2 separate regions of the Homo sapiens genome follow, and region 2 is reported to be linked to region 1. Evidence: microRNA targets listed by miRTarBase, many of them from high-throughput screens and not tested one by one. Region 1 holds a microRNA gene; the other region holds the end of a gene's coding sequence.
What was found. Region 1 holds the annotated microRNA hsa-miR-1208 (UCACUGUUCAGACAGGCGGA, at 4,988-5,007, shown strand). A microRNA usually pairs through its seed, bases 2 to 8, with sites in the 3' UTR of a target mRNA and lowers its output. Matches are read on the target gene's strand: a 7mer-m8 pairs with bases 2 to 8, a 7mer-A1 pairs with bases 2 to 7 and ends in A, and an 8mer does both.

Region 1 (11,312 bases):
CTGAGTAAGAAGTCTACCTCAAGGCTTCCTGTTCTGTATTTGCCACATGTCTCCTGACTTCTCTGCACCTGCCTGTGGCATTTTTCCCACCTAAAATCCTTTTTCCTCTCTTGTCATGAAATATTTTCAACATAGCAAGAAGCATAGGGAATATACTAATCACCTTTGCACCTACCACTCACATTTAACACATGTTGACATTTGCCACAGTTACTTCTGATCTTTTCTCTTTTAAAATGAAACTTGGCAGAGGCCGCTGTAGCTTTTTTACACACCTCCTCGTCAATATTTCTCCTTCCTCTCCAGAGGTGACTGTGGGCCTTCACTATCTCCCTCTTTTCTCTACCCCAGTTATCTTGCATTCAACTAAATCCTCCACATTTGAAAGAGCCAGGTCAAGGCCCCTGTCCTCCAGCTCATGATGACCTTTCCTGCATGACATTATTGCATTCGATTTTGGAGAGCTTATTGTGATTTATTATTTATCATCCTAGTCATTCATTCAACCTGTGCTGAACAGACCCTCCTTTGATGCAGCACTCTTCTACTTGCTGGGGTTGCAAAAATGAGTCCCACATGGTCTCTGCTTCCAAGAGCTCACAGAACATGGCATGTGGGTGAACATTATCTTGCAGTGAGAAGGAAAGCTTGTTGGGAGAAGGACTTGTCTTTAGAAGTCTGCCACAGCTTTTACACAGGAATTTGATCTCACATAAACACTTGTGGCCTTGTGATCATAAGACTGGAAATGGTGTGAGAATCAGAAGCAAGGTAGAGGTGTCTGCCCCATGTCAGGCCTTATGTAAGGCTCTGGAAGTATATTATTTCATTTAATGTTCCACAAACCAGCAAGATGAGTGTTATACCTTTCTTTAACAGATGTAAAGTCAAGGGTTGGAGGTCAGAAATGCAGTTCACATTTGAACTGAAGCTCTTTAATGTCAATGCCTGTATTGATCTGTCTCCCTCTTTAGGCCATAATCAACTCAAGATAGACTGAACTTAATTCATCTCTGTTTCCCAGGCCCAGCACTGTCTCTGAGCAGATATTTGATGTGTGAACATATATGCTGCAGTAGATCTCTGGAATTAAAAGGAAACAAGAACACATGGGCCTTGCCCCCAAGGAGCTTACCATTTAGGTGGGCGGGCAGACTTTGGTAACAGGTGCAAGAAAGCAGTGCCTAAATGCCTGTCACACAGCAAGGGATTTCTACTCTAAATGGGAGGGGAGATGACATTCTCTTTGCTGATCCAGGCTTTTAATTTAATCAGGCCAAATCACTTGGGGATACAGAATTTTCTCAGGACCCCTGTTTTACTGCAGTTCAGGTTGCCTCTTTTTCCCCAAACTCTGACATTCCTGGCTCTATCCCTGTCTTCTCTATCTGCCCCATTGCTCTGTCACTCTTCAGACTTTGGGCTCAAACTTGCCACACAGATTCTCTGCTCTCTTCTTTCCCTTTGGTGTCTCTTGCTGTCTGGATGAGAATCTACTGCTCCAACCTCAGGGGAGCAACCATCAGCTGGACCAAACTCCACTTCACCACCTCCAACTCAAGAAAATGTGGTATTTGTACATGCACGCACATGCACATACACACACACACACATATATATATATATATATATACCCTTTATATAATAATAATGATATATAATCCCTTTTCCAAGAACCCATGTCTTCTTCAAAACAGAGTCTGGGGCAGGGGCTCTTCTGGGTGGCATAGACCTCCTTGGCAGATTGGTGAAGCCTATGATCTCTTCTCAGAATAATGACTTTAAATGAATTAAATAAAGATACATGGGATTTCAAAGGAAACTAATTATAGCAAAAAACTGTTATGGAACAGTACACGCACATGCACACACACACAAATGATATTAGTTATCCATTGCTGAGCAACAAAAAGTGTATTAGAGCAACAGGCATTTATTATCTCCCAGTCTCTGCAGGTCAGGGGCCTGGGCGTGGCTTAATTGGGTCCTTTTGCTTGAGATCTCTCATGAGGCTGCAATTCAGGTGTCTGCCAGAGCTGTAGTCATCTTGAGATGGCCTAGGGATGAGCCTGCTTCCAAGCTCACTCACAGGCTTGTGGGCAGAATTTGGTTTCTCACAAGATGTCTAACTGAGGGCCTCATTTCCTCACTGATTCTTGGCCAGAAGCTGCCCTCAGTTTCTTGCTATGTGGGCCTCTCTGTGGACAGCTCACAACGTGGCCTCTGGCTCTGTCAGAGTGAGGAGGTAAGAGGGAAAGTGAGTGTGAGCAAGACCAAAGTCATAATCTTTTATAATCTCCTCGTGGATGTGACACCTCCTCATCTTTGCCCTATTCTATCCATGAGAAGCAAGTCACTAGGTTCAGCTCACTCTCAAGGGAGAGCTGAAAATGAGTTGTGAAAGCCAGAAGGTGGAGTCATTGAAGGTCATCTTAGAAGCCTGAGTACCACAAGTGCTCTATATGCTATTTGAAGGCATCAAAGAAGATCTAGCAGAAGTTCAGTAACTAATGTAACTTTGAAATAGACACGAGGGCAATATTTCATGATCTCTGCCACAGCTGACATATGATATGAAATTATCTGTCATTTCTGTGGATGACAAAAATCACAGCTATTGCTAATAAACTGTGTGTTGTCTACATACACAAGTGATAGAAATACTAAATTTCAATTACAGGTGAGTGCAAATCAAGCTGTATTTTTTCCTTTTTCTTCCCAGGCCTCCAGGTGTCTGCATTCTGATCCTTGAAGAGTTCATGGACCTAAGTTAAGAACCTCTCCTCAAGAGACTGAATGCAGGCAGAGATGGCTTATTGGTTCATCACAGGTTATGTGAACTACCCACTGTAAGATCCCCAGATTACTTGGGGCTAAAAGGTGTCCCAAGAGGGTTTACAACATTGCCAGAAATTAGTGGGGTCACTTCTGTCCAGATTCTCGTTTTCAGCCTTGTGTGTCTAAAAAATATATTTTTTATTCTGTATTCTAAGGTGAGCAGGGTTTAAGATTAGACTCACATTAACTAGATTTGTAAGAGGCAGAAGTATAATGCATATTTTATTCACTCAATCACTCATATAGTCAATCATTCATATAGTCTTCCATTCCTTCGGAGCACACTGTTAGGCACACACTGATTGACCACTACTGTGTGCCAGGCACAAAATACATGCTAGGATCAGTGGTCTCTGAATAGTAGTTGAAGACATAATCCCGGATCTCTGGGAACTGATGGTGGTTTACAGTGGTCCTCAGCTTCCCTTTTCTCCCATGACACATGCATGACCATGATATTTACTCTAGGGAAATCCATTTTACTTCCACCCATTCCTGCATTAGCTCACTTCCATATAGAAATTTTAATCTCAGAAGAGCTTTGGAGGAAGCTTCTATCCTAGTCTGCTCTTCCCCATGAAAGAATGGCTTTCAGAGTCACAGGTGTTCTCTCAGCTTCTACCTCTTCTGTAAGGTCAGTCCCCTGGGACAGCCCTTTCCCTGAGTCAGGGTGATAGGAGGGGTGGGAAAGAGAAGGAGGGAGGAAACGAAAGAGAGAAGCTTGAAGTTTTCTAGCTGTAACTGAGTAAGTCATCTCTATCAGAAGAGGCAGGAGTGGGAAACCTGTTTTTGACTCATTTCTAAGCCATGTGTTCTAATTCATATTTACCAGCATGGGAAAACAGTTCATCCCTACCTAACTCTCAGGTCTGTGGCTCATTTGAGGGGGAAAAGTATAATTATCACCAAACATTTTACACTTTCCTATGGCCATGTCCAGGTTCTCCATGTCCTTACTACAACTCCACAATTTTTTTTCCCCAATGCAAGAATGGCATTATTAAGTCCATAATTCACTTTAATGGATCTTTATTCAACAAATCTGTATTAAGCACTGGGCTAGACGCTAAGGATTGAAGCAGGAATAACATCAAGGAGGAAGTGCTGCTCTCCTGGAGCTTACATTCTGGAGGAGAGACACTGGTTACAAACAAGTAAACCAAGATATGGATGAGATTCTGAAAAGTTCTTTAGAAAAAATAGGCCACAGGCTGGAGAGAGAATAACCAGATGACATTTATGTTGACAAGGTGGCCAGGGAAGTCTTCACTGAGAAGAAGGCATTTGACTTGAGACCTGTAGGACAAGAAGCTGGGCAGGTGAAGGCTGGGCAGAGAACATTCCAAGCAGAGAAAACTGCATGAGGCTTGAGTTTCAGCTGAAGCTTGGCATGTCTGGAGAAAGAAAAAGTTTGCATATTTTTACTTAATTGTGTTCAAAGAAAAATACATGTGATAATCTTGGTTTGATGTACAAGTGGTATGAATGCACAGATTACTCCTAAAAGAATTTTTCTTTATGTGTATATATGTTACTAATTTTACCTATCACACTTTGGGAAAACTAATCACTTTTAGGCCCATACTAGAGAACTTATGGATAATTCTGGAGACTTGAATATCTACCAGCCTCAGTAACTGTCTTTCTAGAACAGCACTGGATAAGTCCTGCCTTAGTCTTCCTTTTATCCTAGACTACAAATATTCTCTTCATGTTGATCCACTTTATCTTCAGTTTGACATACCTTAGACTTTTAAACAATCCATTCACATAGCAAGCTTCATGCAATGTCATCCAAAAAGATTTCTAATTTCTATAAAGTTTTGGCCCTTCTTCCTGTCTTTGGTGAGATTCCTTCACCCCTAAGGACCTCTGCAATGTTATAAATATTCACCATTTATTATATATATATTTTTTCTCTAGCTGTTTCCAAGTTCCTACTCTGGGAGCAAGCCGTACCCAGCACTTCCTCTTCTCCCTCCCTGTGTCCCACTGCCACTGAGTGAAGCCACACTCGGTCCGACTGGCGGATCTTTCTACCCTCCCTTCCCTCTAAATATCCTTTGGCCTCAAATGCTAATTGAAGAGCTCAGAAAGAGGACATTAAGAAGGGGGCTTTCTGGTGGGCAACAATGAATCACCGGCAGAATCACTGTTCAGACAGGCGGAGACGGGTCTTTCTCGCCCTCTGATGAGTCACCACTGTGGTGGGGGGGAGTGGACAGTCAGCCAGACAGATAATGTGTCAGTCTCTCTCCTCAGCCTGACCCTGGACATCAAAATAGACTGCGGTTCCCTCCTTCTGGGCCCATTGCTGGCATTTGACCTAATGCTATAGAAATTTAAACCAACAAGGAGGGTAGTAAAGTTAAGCTTTCTAGGCCATTGAGCTGAAGTTTTAATATTGTAACAGAGATTCTTAAGACAGGCTTGTCACCCTGGCCAGTGACTACCCAAGTAATGTCTTGCTGACCCAGGCCATCCTCTCCACCGATATAAATGCTCTGTGCTTCATCTCAATGTTCTCATCGTTGAGGTCTCGTTTCATTTGACAGTGAAAAATGCAGACCAGATGAAAACCACTTTCTACAAGGCAAACAATAACAACAGCTTCTGTGAATTAAACATCTACTGTGCCAGGCACTTGGCAAACATCATCTCATTTAATTCTCACACCTTCTCAAGTAGGTATGGCTCACTCTACGATACAGACCATGAAACTGAGGCTCAGAAAGTTGCAGCCATTTCCCCCACGTGTTCACGGGTAGGAAAGGGTAAAACTGACTATAGAATAAGGTGATTATAGAACTTATCATCCAAAACAGGGCACTTTTGAAAGTAAAAGGGAGAACTAGTAATAATTTCACAGCCACAGATGCAAAGGGGAAATGTCCCAGCAAGCCAGAATATAAAAATGCCTGAGTTTTGAACCAGTCTTTTTGGCTCTACAGCCCAGCCCATTCACCCAATTGGTTGTCAGGAAGGTAACAGGAGAAATTTGTAATCAGCTCCCCTCATTCTCTTATGATTTTTTTGCTTGCTGTTTCCTTTCCCTCTCTTTTCATTCTGAGATAGGATGAAGCCCAAACCTCTGTGCTTTCAAGCAGCCCTGTGGACGATTCTGATGTGCTGCCAGGCATGAGTACTCCTGACGATATGATCTTTGAGGACAGGCATTTGTTCTTATTCATCATTGTATCCTAATAAGTAACATATGGGCATGCAGTAAGTGCTTAATAAATCTTCATTCAATGAATGAGTATGTTATTGAATGAATGCAATGATGTGCAGAAGCAAGCAGGGAGGAGTATCACTGTGTGTCTGAGGAATATAAATGAGTTTGGGGCATCCATATAAAGAGAAATGAGAAAGAGGAAACAGTGGACACATCTGCCAGGCTGAGCTTCAATTTCATCATTAAGGCAGAGCCACCAGTCTCTGAGTAGGAAAGTGACACAGTCTGATTTGCATTTTGGAAAGAACATTTGTGTGGTTGTGTTCCAGGTTAAGCCTATGAGAAATTAGACACTGAAGGTATTTAAAACATGTTTTCAAAAGGGCTACTGAGTGCCTAGCATAATATAACCTTTTACATATTTGAACAATTTCCAAGCTGGGGCTAGCACCACCCCTGCTGGGAGTCAGAATCTGGACACTCTCTGGACCGTAATTGCTCACCTTGTTGGGACACCTAAGAGCCACTCTTTCGGGGGAATGTTTTCTGTCTGTTTGTTTTCTGGCTTCTTCCCCAATATTAGCGGTTCTACCATGGGGTGGCTGGGTGGGTGGAAGGGACCCACGACATTCAGGAAAGTGAGGAGCAGTTTCTGTGATTATAGCAGACCCATTCACTGGAATTTTTCCTGACATCTCTCCATGACCTTTATGCCTCCAAGGGCCTGGACACAATGCAGCAGCTCTCCAGCTGGGACAGGGCACATGAGGGGGTATCATACATGAGTGTTCCCCCAAGTGGGGCTGTGGCCACTGCAGAGCAGCCCAGGGGACCTTGCTGTGCACAGCCCTATGTCCTGGGGTTTCCCGCAAAGCTTTGCCCTGTCTGGTGAGACGGCTGCCAGACAGTATGAGATGAAAGACACCGTTCACACTTAATGGTGACTGGAATGTGCGCCATGTAAACCAGATGATGTGGAGACCAATTTATAACCACTTCACAGTTCAATGATGAATGGTGGGTCCCTTGTACTGACTCTTTAACTAGCTCCCTTCAAGGAACAGGCGGCTTCCGAGATTGTCTTAAAGCAGTGTGGGATGTCCAGGCCCTGCCCAGGTCCTATCTTTTCTTCCAGCACCATCCACCTCCCTGAAATCTTCTCATAGCACCTGGTCCTCACCTCGTTCTTCTCGTTGAATTCTGTTTCCTCCTTGGTGTCTACCTTGCTACATTCATTCCACAGGCATCTCTGTTCTATTAGGCAGTCCTTTCTGTAAGCATTTCCCATGGATATTATAACCTAACCTTCAAGCTTTGTCAACACTTATCAGCAGAATTCTGCTTGTATCTTGGGCCAGAATGAGTCACAGCACATCCCTGGATGCAGAGAAGGGTAGGAACTCTGATACTTGGCTTCTCAGTTTCCATACAAGAGGTAGCAATGGAGAAGAGTGTTGGGAGAAGATTTTAGTAGGGAATCAACAGTGTTAACTCCACACCTACCATTGTCATTCTATTTTACAGATTAAAAAACGAAGTCACATGGAAGATAAATAACATGCTCAACATCACCCAGCCAGAAGTGGTGGAGACATGGCCAACATCACAGGGGACAACTCCTGAGCCTGTGCTAGGAACAGCCAGTCTTCCTGAATTCATGATAAAGTAAGAGGTAGAACCGTGGCCAATTGTCTTTGGGAGAAAGTGGGATCAAGGACAACTCCAGGATTCTGCCTGAGATGGGACACACTAGAGCATTACTTGGGAATGTAAATAATAATATCAAATTATTGAATGATTTCCATGGGCTACTCTCTTCATATACCAGTTCTAATTCTGATAAGCTTGTATCATTATCTTCTTTTTAAAAGGCATGAAAACAGAGGCTCACAGAGATCATATTATTTTCCCCAAGTTGCAATGATGGTAAACACAGATGACAGCTGGACATCAACTAGGTCTGGGTGGCTTCCAACTCCAGTGACTCAATGCTGCTCCACACGGCCTTCTTACAAGGAAAAATGAGAACAGGCCGCGGGCCGGCTTCTGTAAATCGCGTGTTGTTGGAATTCCTGTCCTTCCTTGACCCAGATTTGTAAACAGAGGCTGTGGAAGCCAAGGTACACATGGGCAGATGCAAACGAGCCGTCTGCTGAGGAGAAAGTCGAATGTGCTCGGGGTGGGTGCGCGTCTGCCTGAAGCACGTGTCCCTGAGGCCTCCTGCTGTCTCCCCAGCCGGCTGACGGGCCCGGTGGTCTGCAGATGGCCACGAAGTGTCTCCGGGCTGTCCAGCTGCAGCCTGGGCGGGCTGGCGGTTTTTTTTTTTTGTGGGGGGAGTGATTCTGAGGGTGCTGGGTGGCCGCTGACAGAGCTTCCTTCTGCTACTTTTAGGCTTGTTGCTGAGCCTTTTTAAAGGGAAGGGGTGGAAATAAGCAAAGATATTTGCTGTGACCTGGAACTGAAATGCCTCACTTTAAAAACAGCTATCATTTACTCACTCATCCAAGAAATACAGGTTGAGCCCCTTCAGAACAACAGGTCCTGTCCTCAGTGCAGCGGATGCAGCAGGGATGCATACAGAGTACCTGTCCTCAGGGAACTTGCAGTTTATTGGATGGAGACAGACAACCCATAATGATTTGTATAAATGTCTAATATATGCTATAGAAAGAGAAGCAGCAAAGTAAAGGGGTGAAGGATGAAAAGGCCAGGGGATATTTTTCTGATGAAGTGACATTTGAGCAGATACCCAAACAAAGCAAAGCAGTGGGCCCAGCAGATATCTGAGGCCAGGATGGTCTCTGGCAAAGGGAACAGCGAATTCATAAGCCCTGAGCAAGGCGAGCCTTCAAGGGTGTAGGCCTTCTTCAGATGTTTAAAGAGCACCGTGCTTGGGGAGGGTCTGGAAGCCGCAGCCTGGGAACAAGTGAGAGAACTGAGGTGTTTAGGGCAGAAAAGGGAAGTCTTGTGAGTAGCAGGCAGCTTTCCTCATGTAAAGGGTTCAAATGTGGAAGAAGGATAAGACTTTTTATTACATAATGCCAGAAGTTGTAACCAAAGACCAGACCAGCTGATGGAAGTTGCTGGAGGCTGTTTGCAAAGGTATGTTGAATAATGCCCTAAGCATTGGCTCTAAAGAGAAGGAACCCGATATTAGTGTAGTAGGGCTGCCATAATAAAATATTATAGACTGGAGGCCTCACACAACAGAAATATTTTCCCACAGTTCTGGAAGCTGGAAGTCTGAGATAAAGGTGTTGGCAGTGTTGGTTTCTTCTGAGGCCTCTTTCCTTGGCTTGTGGGTTACCATCTTCTCTGTATGCCTTCACATGGTCCTTTGTAGGACCATCTGTGTCCTAATCTCCTCTTTTTTTTTTATTTTATTTTTTGAGTTGGAGACTCGCTCTGTTGCCCAGGCTGGAGTGCAATGGTGCAATCTCCACTCACTGCAACCTCCGCCTGCAGGGTTCAAGCAATTCTCTGGCCTCAGCCTCTGGAGTAGCTGGGGCTACAGGCATGAGCCACAATGCCTGGCTAATTTTTTGTATTTTTTTAGTAGAGATGGGGTTTCACCATGCTGGCCAGGCTGGTCTCGAACTCCTGACCTCATGATCCACCTTGCTCGACCTCCCAAAGTGTTGGGATTACAGGCTTGAGCCACCGCACCCGGCCCTAATCTCCTTTTCTTATAAGGACACCAGTCATATGGGATTAGAGCCCACTCACATGACCTCATTTTTACGTAGTTACCTCTTTAAAGGCCTTATCTCCAAACAGAGTCACATTCTGAAGTACTGGGGGTTAGGGCTTCAACATCTTAATTGTAAAGAGGGGACACAGTTTAGCTCATAACAAACTTTTCCTCACAATTTAAATTTATTGAAGAAGCTGAGTTGTTTGTTCTGCACTGAGTTATTCATTCTGTCTGGATTTCTCAGATTGCCTCTCTGTGGTTCACTGTTTTCCTGGTAAATGGTACTTAGATCCTTGATTGAATTTAAGTTTGATTTTCAGGCAAGAATACTACATCAGGTGGTGGTGTATACTTCCATCCAGAGGCAAATGATATCTTCTTGTCTCTCTGTAATACACAAAACAATTTTCAACCAGAAATGTAGATGAGTGAGGATTCTGACGTACCTAGAATATTTGGATGACTGCTGCTTGAATGGATGGCCTTGAGACACCTGAAGACCCTGATGTGCCTTCTGAATCATACCACGATTCAATTACATCCATCATTTAACAACAACAACAACTCTAGAAGGTACTTATTTTGTAGATGTCATTACATTCGTGTACGAGACTGGAGTCTGGAACAGAACCCCCGACTAACCTGTCATGCAGAAGGACAAACATAAACAGGCTTCGGGGTGTGAAGGAAATGTTCCAACAGCTGGGTTTGGCTCCTGACCCTGACCCGCCACATACTAGAATGTGATCCTAGCCAAGCGACCTAAAACTTTGAGTCCATATTCCTTATTGGTGAAATGTGTATTACACTTCTCTCTTCAAAATTTGCTTCTGGTGTCACCTCCCCCAGGTAACCTCCTCCTACTCTTCTCCCAGCCTTGCCTGACAGCTCATCCCTGGGATGTCCCTCTCACCGAATGCTCACCTCCAGCATGCACATAGCTTCCCTTTTGCTATTTATCCGTGTGTCTCCTCCTCAAACTAGGAGTTCCTTCGGGTTCAGTACTGTGTCCTCAAAATGGTTTTCAAGACAGTTGCTTGTTCATGGTAGCTGCTCAAACAATAATTTAATGACTAAAAGCGTTGCTCCCAAGTAGTGTTCTAAATCTAAAAATCCCAGGAAGCTTATTTTTATTTTTATTTTTATTTTTTGAGATGGAGTCTTGCTCTGTTACCAGGCTGGAGTGGAGTGGCACGATCTTGGCTCACTGTAACCTCCGCCTCCCGGATTCAAGCGATTCTCCTGCCTCAGCCTCCTGAGTAGCTGGAACTACGGGCGCATACCACCACCCCTGGCTAATTTTTTGTATTTTTAGTAGAGACGGGGTTTCACCGTGTTGGTCAAGATGTCTCGATCTCCTGACCTCGTGATCCGCCTGTCTTGGCCTTCCAAAGTGCTGGGATTACAGGCGTGAGCCACCGTGCCCGGCCAGCTCTTCAGCAATTACTGATATCCCAGGGCGCAACACTAGAGCTCTCCAGGTGATTCTAATATATAGCCAGAGTTGAGAACCACTGTGGTAGGGCAGTGGTTCTTAAAGTGTGGTCCTTAGACCAGTGCATTGGCATCTACCTGGGAATTTGTTAGAAGTGCAACTCTTGAGTC
Region 2 (11,312 bases), not on the chromosome of region 1:
CTGATTCCTCTGTCCCCAGCGCCCAGAAGAGACCTCAGCAGAGTTTTGGTGACTTAATGAAGTTTGGGACAGGGGTGTCATGCCTGGAGTTACTAGCAAGACAGAGACATACGGGCAGTTGCCTGACGCCCAGCTTAGTGTTCCACCTGCCTGCCGTCTGAGGAAGCCTCTCCGCCCCTCCAGCTGAGTGTGTCTATTTTGGGCATGCTCAGTACAGAAGTAATTCTGGGGGGATTCATTTGGGTAAGCTTCTCGGGCTTCTAATCCATCTGGGCTATGGGGGCCAAACTGAAAAGGCCCTTCCAGAAAACCTGCTCTCATCTCCCCATTGTACAGATGAAGACATGGAGACAAGTAGAGGCAGGAACTTGGCCAAGGTCACACGGCCAACTAGTCCTTGTCACCTTTTGGCGTCCCCTGCCCAGGGCCCCAACATCATCCCAGCAGACATCATTTTCATCGTAAAGGAGAAGCTACACCCTCGCTTCCGCAGGGAGAATGACAACCTCTTCTTCGTGAACCCCATCCCTCTTGGCAAGGTGAGTGGGCAAAGTGCAGGAGCAGCGGGGAGGAGATCAGAGTGAGCCCTGCCTGCCCCGGCCTAGACTTGGCCTCCCCTCCCACAACCACCTGCCATCAGTCACTAAGCCCTGTGGATTCCACCCTCTAAATCACCATCCACTTGGTCCCGTCTGCTCATCTGCACCGCCTGGATCTGTACACCAGATCTGCGCAGCAGGCCTTCCTCCCCACTTCTCATCTCCTCCAGGCTCTTCTCCTTAGGGATCCTGCCACACACTCATCAGACCCTGCCACACTCCTGTCTAAACATCTTTGTGCCACTGGAGGCCCTCTGCGATCTGCTCCCTGCTTACTCCTTCCCCTGCACTCCCGCCCCTTCGCCGCATAGCACCCTGCCTGTGTGGCGCATTGTCACACCTCCGTTCTCATTTCTGCTGGGCCCTCTCCCTGGAATGCTGTCTATTCACCTGACCCTATAGGGTCCTCATCAATAGCTACCACCACTGCTACCACTTCCTGCCCCACTCCTGAATGGTTTAGGGGCCTCTCCTTGGCTCCCACAAACGCTTTTATTCTGTCTCCATCATTACATTTATACAACATCCATCTTACCTGCCAGATCCATCCATCTTTCCTGCCAGTGCAGAAAATTGCATGGGTCATTCACCTATTAGTTATTGAACAGCCTCGTCTCCCTTGTGCCCAACTCACAGTCTGGCACTGGACAGGTTCCTAAGGTGCCTTCTAAATAGGAGAGCCATGGTGACCCTCCTCAGCCCCACCTTTGGCCCTGACCCTCCCTAGGCTCTCACCTGCTGCACTGTGGAGGTGAGGACCCTAGATGACCGTCTGCTCAACATCCCCATCAATGACATCATCCAGTGAGTCCATCTGCCTTGGGCCCCAGTAGCCAAGAGAAGGGCTAGCCTGGGATTTAGGTGGTAGTGTGACAGGTCTGCCCAGTAGAGTTGTACAGGCTGCCCCCAGCAGAAGGGTTCCCTGCTGAGGGGATAGAGAGGACCAAAACTGAACCCACACTGGCCAAGCTGTGGGCTGCAATCACCTGGCAAAAGGAACATCTTTTTCTAATCCACACAAAGCCACTGCAGAGGCTAGAGGCCCCCATTGTTGGGCAACCCTGTAGCCTCCATGCCCTGCAAACTTCTCATTAGAGTTCTGAGTTGCATATCCTAAGTCCTTTTCCAAGAAAGGCCCTCTGCCCGTGAGGAGGTTTGCCTGGCAGCCCAGCACCCTCGCCCTCACCCCAGGGTTTGCTCACCTTTACTTCCCGTTTCCCATGTCTTAAACAAAGTTTCTGGAATCCTCCATCAGAGACTCAGTGTAAACAGGTTTTCAGGGAGCTCCTTTCCCAACCAGTTCTGGCTAAGAACCACTCCAGGTGAAGACTGCAGTGACTGTCCCCTTCCTGGGGTTATGTGAGTAGGGGTTATATGACAGGGACCTGCTGAGGTGCTGCTCTGGGATGCCCTCTATGCTCCTTTCTTTCATCCTATTTCAGCCCCAAATACTTCAAGAAGGTGCCAGGGGAGGGGATGCCATTGCCGGAGGACCCCACTAAGAAAGGGGATCTCTTCATCTTCTTCGACATCCAGTTCCCCACCCGCCTCACACCCCAGAAGAAGCAGATGCTGCGCCAGGCATTGCTGACATGACTGTGGTGGGCTGGAGCAGGGGTGAGAGGAGGCTAGCCGGGCCTCACCCCACCCCTACCCGCCACAGCCTCAGGGTGTGCAGGGGAGCCTGCTGCACAGATATGATACAAGGGTGGGATGGCGCAGGGCTTAAACTGACATAATAAAGATCTATTTCCTGTCCTCCAGCTACACCCACGAGAGTACATTGGAGAGGAGCTTCATATTAGCCCTTCTTGTGGGGCACAGGGAAGAAAGAGGCCTAAGGAGCTGAGTGCCTGAGTCCCTGTCCTGGCTTTGTGGGAAAGGGCAGGTAAGGGTTCAGATCCTCTGTGCTTCCACTTTGATAGAGTGGGGCAGGGCTGTGTGGCCTCTGAGGGTCTCTAGCTCTGCTCTGGCTTTTCATGACAGAAGAGACAATCTCTGGAGCATGATATGGTCACGTTAGAGACAGGAAAACTAAAGCACAAAAGAAAACATTCATTGCAGGTCACTCAGGCCTCAGTGGCAAAGCTGTCATCAGAACCTTGAAGGTGGCTGGGTGCGGTGGCTCATGCCTGGACTTTGGGAGGCCAAGGTGGGCGGATCACTTGAGGTCAGGAGTTCGAGACCAGCATGGCCAACATAGTGAAACCTCGTCTCTACTAAATACAAAAATTAGCCAGGTGTGATGGTGGGCACCTGTAATCCCAGCTACTCCAAAGGTTGAGGCAGGAGAATTGCTTGAACCTGGGAGGCAGAGTTACAGTGAGCTGAGATTGCACCACTGCACTCCAGCCTGGGCGAAAGTGAAATTCCATCTCAAAAAAACTAGAAAGGCCGGGTGTGGTGGCTTATGCTTGTAATCCCAGCACTTTGGGAGGCCGAGGCAGGTGGATCACCTGAGGTCAGGAGTTCAAGACTAGCCTGGCCAACATGGTGAAAACCCGTTTCTACTAAAAATACAAAAATTAGCTGGGCATGGTGGCGAGGGCCTGTAATCCCAGCTACTCGGCAGGCTGAGGCAGGCGAATCACTTGAATCCAGGAGGTGGAGGTTGCAGTGAGCCGAGACTGCGCCACTGCACTCCAGCCTGGGTGACAGAGCAAGACTCTGTCTCAAACAAAAAACAAAAAAAACCCCCAAAAACCTTGAAGGTCACTTCCCACAGACTCGCCCTGCGTAGAGAAGCAGCATAAAGAACACATGTGCACTGGAAACAGCTTTGGTTCTACCTCTCTGGCCTCAATCCCCTGGTCTGTGATAGGGTCCTGGGCAGGGTGATCTGGGAGGCAGGAAACCTGAGTTCTGACCCCAGCCCTGCCACTTTCTCCTGGGACCAGTCACCACACCTGTCTTGTCAGTAAAGCAGAGCCCATAACCCCCCTCACGGGCATGTTGTGAGGACAGAGAACATTGATGTGAAAGTGCTTGGTGAACTCACTGCTTAGATTCAGGAAGGGGTAACAGCACTGCTGCCCTCAAGGCCTGGAGTTCCAGCATCCAGGTCCAACTGGGCCTGCGTAGACCACACTTGCCTCCTCATAGTCAACACGTGTGTTATGCTCCCCTTCCATGCCAGGGAGGTTCCCTTCTAGAGTCTGAGCTTGGGTGAGGATAGATCCAGGCTTACGGGGAGTAGGTAGCCAATTCCATGGAATGCCTTCAGAGGTGCCAGAAAAGGCCCCATGTTCTCCAGATTGCTTGGGACTCCACCATTCAAATCACATCAGCTTAAGGTTTTTTTTTTAAAACGGGGGTTCAGTAGCACTTTTGTCATTAAAAAAATCACCATGGGCTGGGCGCGGTGGCTCATGCCTGTAATCCCAGCACTTTGGGAGGCCGAGGCGGGTGGATCACAAGGTCAGGAGTTCAAGACCAGCCTGGGCAACATGGTGAAACTTTGTCTCTACTAAAAATACAAAAATTAGCCGGGCATGGTGGCATGCACTTGTAATCCCAGCTACTTGGCAGGCTGAGGCAGGAGAATCACTTGAACCCAGGAGGCAGAGGTTGCAGTGAGCTGAGATCTTGCCACTGCACTCCAGCCTGCACGACAGAAGAGACGCCATCTTAAAATTAAAAAAAAAATCACCATGAAGTCAGCTACCCAAAGACCTTGAGGTGAAGACTCTGGGACCAGGGCTCCAGGAAGCATTTCAGCATAGTAGTTAAAAGCATGTGGGCTTTGGAGTCAGACACACCTGTTCTGGATCCCCAGTGTGCTACTAGCCAGCTGTGTGCCTTTGGGCAAATCACTTCACCTCTCTGAACCCGTTTCTTAAAGCTTACAGCCCCTACCTTGCAGGCCTTTCATGGAAACCAGATGGTGAGGCATGAAATGCTCTGGGGCAGGACTCAGGTGGAGTGGGATGGTGAGAGCTGCCCTGTTCTGAGGGCAAGCCCTGAATTGGAGTGCAGAGGCAGGGCTGTGAAATTCTTCAACTCTAGGTCTCCTGTAGGGCAGCAGGAAAGCCTACTCCTTATCTTGAAGGAAGCCTGGGTCTTGGGCCTGAAAGTCCCTTAGGAGATTCCTATTACCTTAGTGATCTTCAGTGTTACCTTGAATTAGGCAAAGCAGGGCTTATCATCTGCCCACTTAATAGGCATTAAAGGGTTGGGAACCAAAGAGAAGTGATCTACCTGTGATCAGAATGAATGAGACCCACTGGTATGTTTTCCAGTGGTTCCTACCACTGTTCCCAGCTCATTGTCCTAAGGCCACACCCAGAACCACAGTGAAGTTGGGTAGCCTCGTGTCTATTAAGGCTGCTGAATGAACCAGCTGACTTGCTCATGCCCACCCAGCCTGTTTAGCTTTGACACACACCTACCAAACTGCCCCTACTTCTTCCCGTCCAGAGCAGAGCTAACAAACAGCCTGCCTCACAGAATTAGTGTAAGAAGGTACATAAAGTAGTGGCCAGGTCCTCTGTATATGCCACCCCCTGCAGCCTGGCTGAGCTGCCTGTCACCTTTACCCTGGTTTGCCGACTTATGGCACTCAACCCTGTCCCTCCCGAGGACTATGGGGCCTCAGCTCAATTTGTCAAAAACTAAGAAGCTGAAGAATCCTGGGCCCTCGTTCCTTCTCCAAAAACCAATCTAACACCCTGGCCCTCAACCCAAGCACTGAAGGGTCTAGCCTCCAGCTCTGACCATTGGGCTTACGAGGCGGCGAAGCAGCAGTGGCTTCAGCGGCTTGAGGCTGAGGGAAGAGGGAGGGTGGTCGTGTTCTCAGGGCCTAGCTCCACAGCTGCCAAACAGGCTTCCCCAAGGACCCCAGCACTGGTCTCTGGGGGAGTCCACAAGGGGAAGGAGGACTGGGTCCCGGTCCCAGTTCAGTAGTGGACTTTCTGGGTGTTCTTGCCTGCATCACCTGTGTCAGGCCTCAGTTTCTTCAGACACCTACAAACTGGGTCTGAGTGACATAATTCTAAGGGCCCAGCCCTACAGGAGATGCCTTGGGATTCCAGGACCTCACAGTCTCCACTCCTTGAAATTGTAGTACCCCTGCCCACCTGCCTCTGAGTGCAGGTGATAAGAACAGGGACAGAGAAGCGGAGACCCCTGTGCAGCCAAGGCCCTGGCTTCTTGCGGCCTCCTTGGATGCCTAGCTGGGGCAGGGGCAGGTGGAGGGGGGTTGTGGTGGTGAGACTCCAAATGGAAAATATCCTGGCCAGGCACAGTGGCTCATGCCTGTAATCCCAGCACTTTGGGAGGCTGAGGTAGGTGGATCACTTGAGGTCAGGAGTTTGAGACCAGCCTGGCCAACATGGCAAAACCCCGTTTCTACCAAAAACACAAAAATTAGCCAGGTATGATGGTGTATGCCTGTAATCCCAGCTACTTGGGAGGCTGAGGCAGGAGAATCGCCTGAACCTGGGAGAGGTTGCAGTGAGCCAAGATTGCACCACTGCACTCCAGCCTGGGTGACAGCAAGTGAGACTCTGTCTCAAAACAACAAAAAACACAAATGGAAAGTATCCTCAGGCAGAGACCAGATGTTTGCCCTGCAGCCTCCACCCACCCTCTGTGGAGTCAGGGCCTGCTCCACCCAGTTCAGTAACATTTCCTCTGTGGGTGTGGCTGTGGCTGTGGAGGGTGGAAGGAGGCTGACTGACTTGTTCTCACAAGGTCTGGGACTTTGGGGGAGGTGGGTCTTCCTTCCATTTGTAAAATGGAATAAAATAAAGTCAACAGCATCTAAGAGTCTCATGTTCCTCTGGAACTGCAGGAGATGCAGGGCACACAGGAGCACTCTTGTTGTGCAGATAAACAGGCCTGCGGCTGGGGTGGGGGGTTGGGATGGCAGGCACTAGAGTACCAGATTCTGAGTAAGAGCTCAAGTGGCCCGGCAAAGGAAGGGGAGGCACTGCTGTCTCTCAGGTGGCTCCTGCACTCCCCATGTTAGTACAGGGCCTGGGTCTAGAGAGAAATGGACCAGATGACCTACACGGGCTTCAGATTGGATGCTGGAGGTGGAAGGTGGATCACACCCATTTTCAAAGTCAGGTGGTTCCTCCCCTGCCCACCAGGTACCAAAAAGGCCATTGGACCAAGACCTCTGGTAAGAGCTACAAGAGAGGGAGGAGACGCCAAGGTTGAGCTTGCTTTATGGATGACAAGTGGGCTAGGCTGGGCTGTCGGGGGCAGGACGAAGATTCTGGCTGAACTTTCCAAGGGACGGGACGCTTGGGATCCTGGCTGGTACGAGGCCTCCCACACTGTCAAATGTCAACTCCACCAGCACTGAGACAATGAGTAGATGAGAATGTAGAAAGAGGGAAGGTGGTAGGTAAAGGAGCGGAAGGAAGAGGTGGGGAAAGAGGGAAGGAGAGAAGGGAAGGAGGGAAGAGAAAGAAGGAAGAAAAGGAAAGCATGGCCCGGCTAGAGACAAAGCCAGAGGTGATCAGGTCAGCAGCAGGAGAGGCTCAGAAGGGAGCCTCTCGGGAAGTGCAGGCAGCCATGAGGGCTCGTTTCAGCTGCTCATAGGTGACGAACATCACCACGTTCCAGGAACCCAAGCGGAGAAAGGAGGGCATGAACCTAGAGGAGAAAAATCACAGGTCATGGGGGCACCTCCACCTCCCACTTCCCTCACTGGGCCTGGTATTCAATCCAACCCAGTTGCTCTGTCCCAAAGGAGGCTGGGAGGACTCAATGAACTGAGCTCACAGCTGCTTGGCTATAAGCATGAATTCCCTTTGAGTCTCCATTTAACACCTAATAAACAGTGATGGTAGCAATTCTGGGAGGAAGGAATTAAGGGGATAGGTGAATGCTGGTGAAATGCCAGGACCAGGATCAGAAATAGTCACACTTGGCTGCTACTCACTTCCAGGTGGTTCTCTCCCACCCACAATAGACATGCATAGCCAAGAGGCCTGAACTGGGTGGGGAGGACCAGAGGCTCACCCTTTGTAGAAGGCTCGGGGCCCCTCCTTCTGGAGCATGGTAAGGGCACAGTGGCCAGCGCTACTGTACTGGCCCAGGGCAGAGTTCATGTATCTCGTCTTGACCACGTCTACAGGGGAGGCGATGACAGTGGTGCAGAAGCCTGCCCCAAAGGCAGAAGTGAAGTGGCAAGGGAGGTCATCTGCCAAGGAGGAGCAGGCAAGGCAGTCAAGATCTTCACCCATCATTCCAGAAGGCAGGAGAATTACTTAAGTAGCTACGAGTTTTCATGATTTTAAAGAGACAGAGAGGCTGGGCACAATGTCTCATGCCTGTAATCCAGGACTTCTTTTGGAGGCCGAGGTGGGTGGATCACTTGAGCCCAGGAGTTCAAGACCAGACTGGGTAACATGGCAAAAACCCTGTCTCTACAAAATACAAAAATTAGCCAGGCACAGTGTGCATGCCTGTAGTCAGCCCCAGCTACTCAGGAGGCTGAGGTGGGAGGATTGCTTGAGTCAGGGAGGTCGAGGCTGCAATGAGCCATTAATCACCCCACTGCACTCCAGCCTGGGCAACCGAGCAAGACCCTGTCTCAAAAAACAAACAAGAGGATGGGGCGCAGAGGCTCACACCTGTAATCCCAGCACATTGGGAGGCCAAGGTGGGCAGATCACTTGAGGCCAGGAGTTCGAGACCAGCCTGGCTAACATGGTGAAACTCCATCTCTACTAAAAATACAAAAATTAGCCAGTGTGCTGGTGCACACCTGTCATCCCAGCTACTCGGGAGGCTGAGGCACAAGAATCGCTTGAACCCAGGAGGAGAAGGTTGCAGTGAGCTGAGATTACACGGGTAACAGAGTGAGACTCTATCTCAAAAAAAACAAAAAACAAACAAACAAAAAAACAAAAACAGACAGGGACTCCAGCTGAGACATCTTCTGAGGACCTGAAAGAGTCATTTTGCCAATCTAGCCTCAGTTCCTCAATGTGCAAAGTGGGAGCTTCATCCCAATTGGCTTCAATATGGCAAGTAAGAGATATCTTACTCTCCCTGCAAAGGGCAAATAGGATGAAAAGATGTGGTCTTCTGGTGTCAGCTAGACCCCCGCACCTGCTCCTGGCATGGGGGAAGGGTGAGACCCAGCACCGTCTACCTCATGACTCACCTGTCATGAGGTTGGCTTTCAGGAGGGCATCCTTGATGAGGTCATAGGTCACCAGCTCAGCACAGTTGACAATGGCATTACGAGCAACATTGGGAGAGGTCCCTGTAGGAGGAGGAAGATCCTGGGTGAGACCAGAGTATCGGGGAGGAGGAAAAGGGGAAGGGAAAACAACTGGTACACACCTTTCCAGAGGCCCCGGAACCCTTCCTCTCGGGCAATGGTCTTGTAGGCATTGACGGTGCTTTGGTATCTCCGACCACCTCCAGCCCGGGCCTGAGCTTGGAATCGGACCTTTACCACATCCGTGGGCTGGGCCACAGCCACAGCCAGGGCACCTGTGGTGCTGCCTGCTAGGAGGCGGCTCCCAATGCTGGCATCTGTGGGCGAGCCATGGGGTCAGTGGCCAGCGGGCTTGCACTCATTTTCTACCTCATCTCTCCTCACCAAAACCACCCTGTCACTGTCATCTCCTGCTTTTGGGAATAGAATCCAGAAGCTTTTGGCCTTCTACAAGCTCTTGCTGTAAGAACTCCTCACATCAAACAAAATATCCCTATGAATATCTACTTCTTGCTAGGGACATAGCAAGGGCTAAGACCAAAATGAAACTTGGTGCTTTCTTTCATAAAACATTTTCATTTACCTGCTCAACAGCCCTGAGAAATCACAATCATTTCCATCTGACAAATGTGAAAACCAAGGCTCAGAGAGAAGTGGCTTTCTGAGGACTGGGATTCCTAAGACTTGGGATCTCAGGTCAGCTTTACTTCTTCCTGCCATGTGATCTGGGAAAGACAACCTTTTGTCTGGGGCTCTGTTTCGTCATGTGTAAAATGGAGGGTTGGCATGGCATACTAAGGAGGTGAAAGGGAAGAACGCTGGCCTTAGAGACGAGTGTCCTGGCTCTCTACTGTGTGTTTTCTGGCTCTCTACTGTGTGCCCCTGGCCAAGTCCCCACTCTACCCACTGCCTTCCCACCTCAGTCTCTTCTTCTATAACACTGGGATGATACTACCTACTCCCAAGGTGGTGTTGAAGACTGTGATGGGATGACGCCCTGCTCAGAGCCTGGTATAGCCCAGGTGCTTAGGAACTATGTGGAGGACCAGGGCCCCTTCCAGTTCTCTGTTCCCCTGATCTTCCTAGGGATCGTGGGGCCTAAAAAACTATATGGCTGAATGAACTAAGATCAATCATCACTGAGAAAAAAGGGCCAAGGGGCCTACACCCTTGCTCCATACTCACGCTCAGAGCCCTTGGTGTAGAACTGTTTGACAGAATCATACAGGCCGATGCGGACAGAGGCAAAGCTCATTTGGCGCTGCAGGCCGGCAACCAGCCCATTGTAGAGGCTTCGGGGGCCCTCAGTACGCACCATGGTCAGAATGGTGCCCATCACACCGCGGTACTGGGCGCTGGCTGTAGCGCGCACTGGCCCCTGACTTTCTCCTTGGATCTGCAAGGCCAAGACAGGGTAGCTACAGGGATAAGCATGTTGCCCTTCCCACCTCCAGTCATCTCGATGCTCCAAACACTGGCCCTTGAGGGGTCTGTGTCTTTGGGGAGGGAACAGAGTAGACACCATCAAGACTCCCAGGCTTCATCCCCTCACCTGTAACCGGACTTTAGCAGTATCCAGAGGAAAGGTGATGAGATCTGCGATGCAGGCAGCTGTGCCAGCCCCAAGAAACTTCACAGTGGCAGTAGGGGGCACATCTGTGGCCTTGAACCCAACCATGATGCTGATTTCCTGCTACGTCCCAGGAGATGGAGAAAAACTGGAGACAGGGGCACCTTTAATCAGCAACAAGACGAGATAGAGGAACTCTGCCGGAATCTAAGCCAAGAGGAGAAAAGCCCCATTAGCCACAATGTCCCCAGGCCCTCCCTGCTCACCATCCCCAAACTCACCTTCCCTAATAGAACCAAGTCCCTCAGCAAGACTCCAAGTGGCCTCATGAGGGAAAACCGATGTGAGCTCGAGAGGCACTCAGTTAGGTGCTGGTGAAGCAATTCCTGCTCAAGCAGTCAATACTTCATGAAGGGCTCCCTCCCTTTCACTGCAGGGAGAGTCTGGATCAGAGCTCTCCTAGCGCTGCCTCATAAACAGCCACTGGACCAGCCCTTTGTCTGCTGTATGCAGAGATTTCACTGATGATGCCCACATTCCTGCTTCTGTGGTTCATCTGGAGAGCTGACAGAAGTAGAGAAAAGTTTCACCCAGACTAAGACCCAACAGGCACAGACCCATAGGCTTATGTTCTGGATGTCTAAGCAGGAATGGTTGCTACAGGTCTGGAACTTAAGTCAAGAAGAAAAGGTACAAGATGACTAATTCAATCCCTTCCCAGACCATCAGTCTAATTCTCTCCTCCAGCTCTCACACAGCTTAGGATCTCTAGAGTCATTGTTTTAGCAAGACTGCTTTGCTGGGCAGTGGTTCACTGAGATGCAGGAGATAGTATCTACTCTAGAGGAGGCTTACTGTTGGGCACAGGGGGTGGATGGGCAGATGATTCAAGCTGCATTTGGGGCTTACAGGACATACTCTCAAAATGCAAAGGAGGGAACAACTAATGCCATTGGGAGAG

Region 2: miRTarBase lists DNAJB13 as a target of hsa-miR-1208. The part of its 3' UTR that is shown has no 7-base or 8-base seed match.

The regions. Positions count from the first base shown.
Region 1 is chr8:128,145,140-128,156,451 of GRCh38, forward strand. It overlaps MIR1208 (microRNA 1208), which reads left to right and starts at 4,977; the gene lies at 4,977-5,049. LOC124902020 (a long non-coding RNA gene) reads left to right here and starts at 5,785. Exons shown (of 5, transcript XR_007061107.1): 1 at 5,785-6,063; 2 at 7,538-7,678; 3 at 7,885-9,115; 4 at 10,028-10,280.
Region 2 is chr11:73,967,920-73,979,231 of GRCh38, forward strand. DNAJB13 (DnaJ heat shock protein family (Hsp40) member B13) reads left to right here. Exons shown (of 8, transcript NM_153614.4): 6 at 426-539; 7 at 1,327-1,403; 8 at 2,042-2,362. The coding sequence ends at 2,195. It overlaps UCP2 (uncoupling protein 2), which reads right to left. Exons shown (of 8, transcript NM_003355.3): 3 at 10,334-10,558; 4 at 9,967-10,177; 5 at 8,904-9,098; 6 at 8,722-8,823; 7 at 7,572-7,752; 8 at 6,753-7,202. The coding sequence starts at 10,459. The coding sequence ends at 7,088. Among named protein-coding and RNA genes, the nearest start is that of UCP2, 9.3 kb to the right of the region's middle. RefSeq lists enhancers at 2,367-2,526, 6,370-6,459.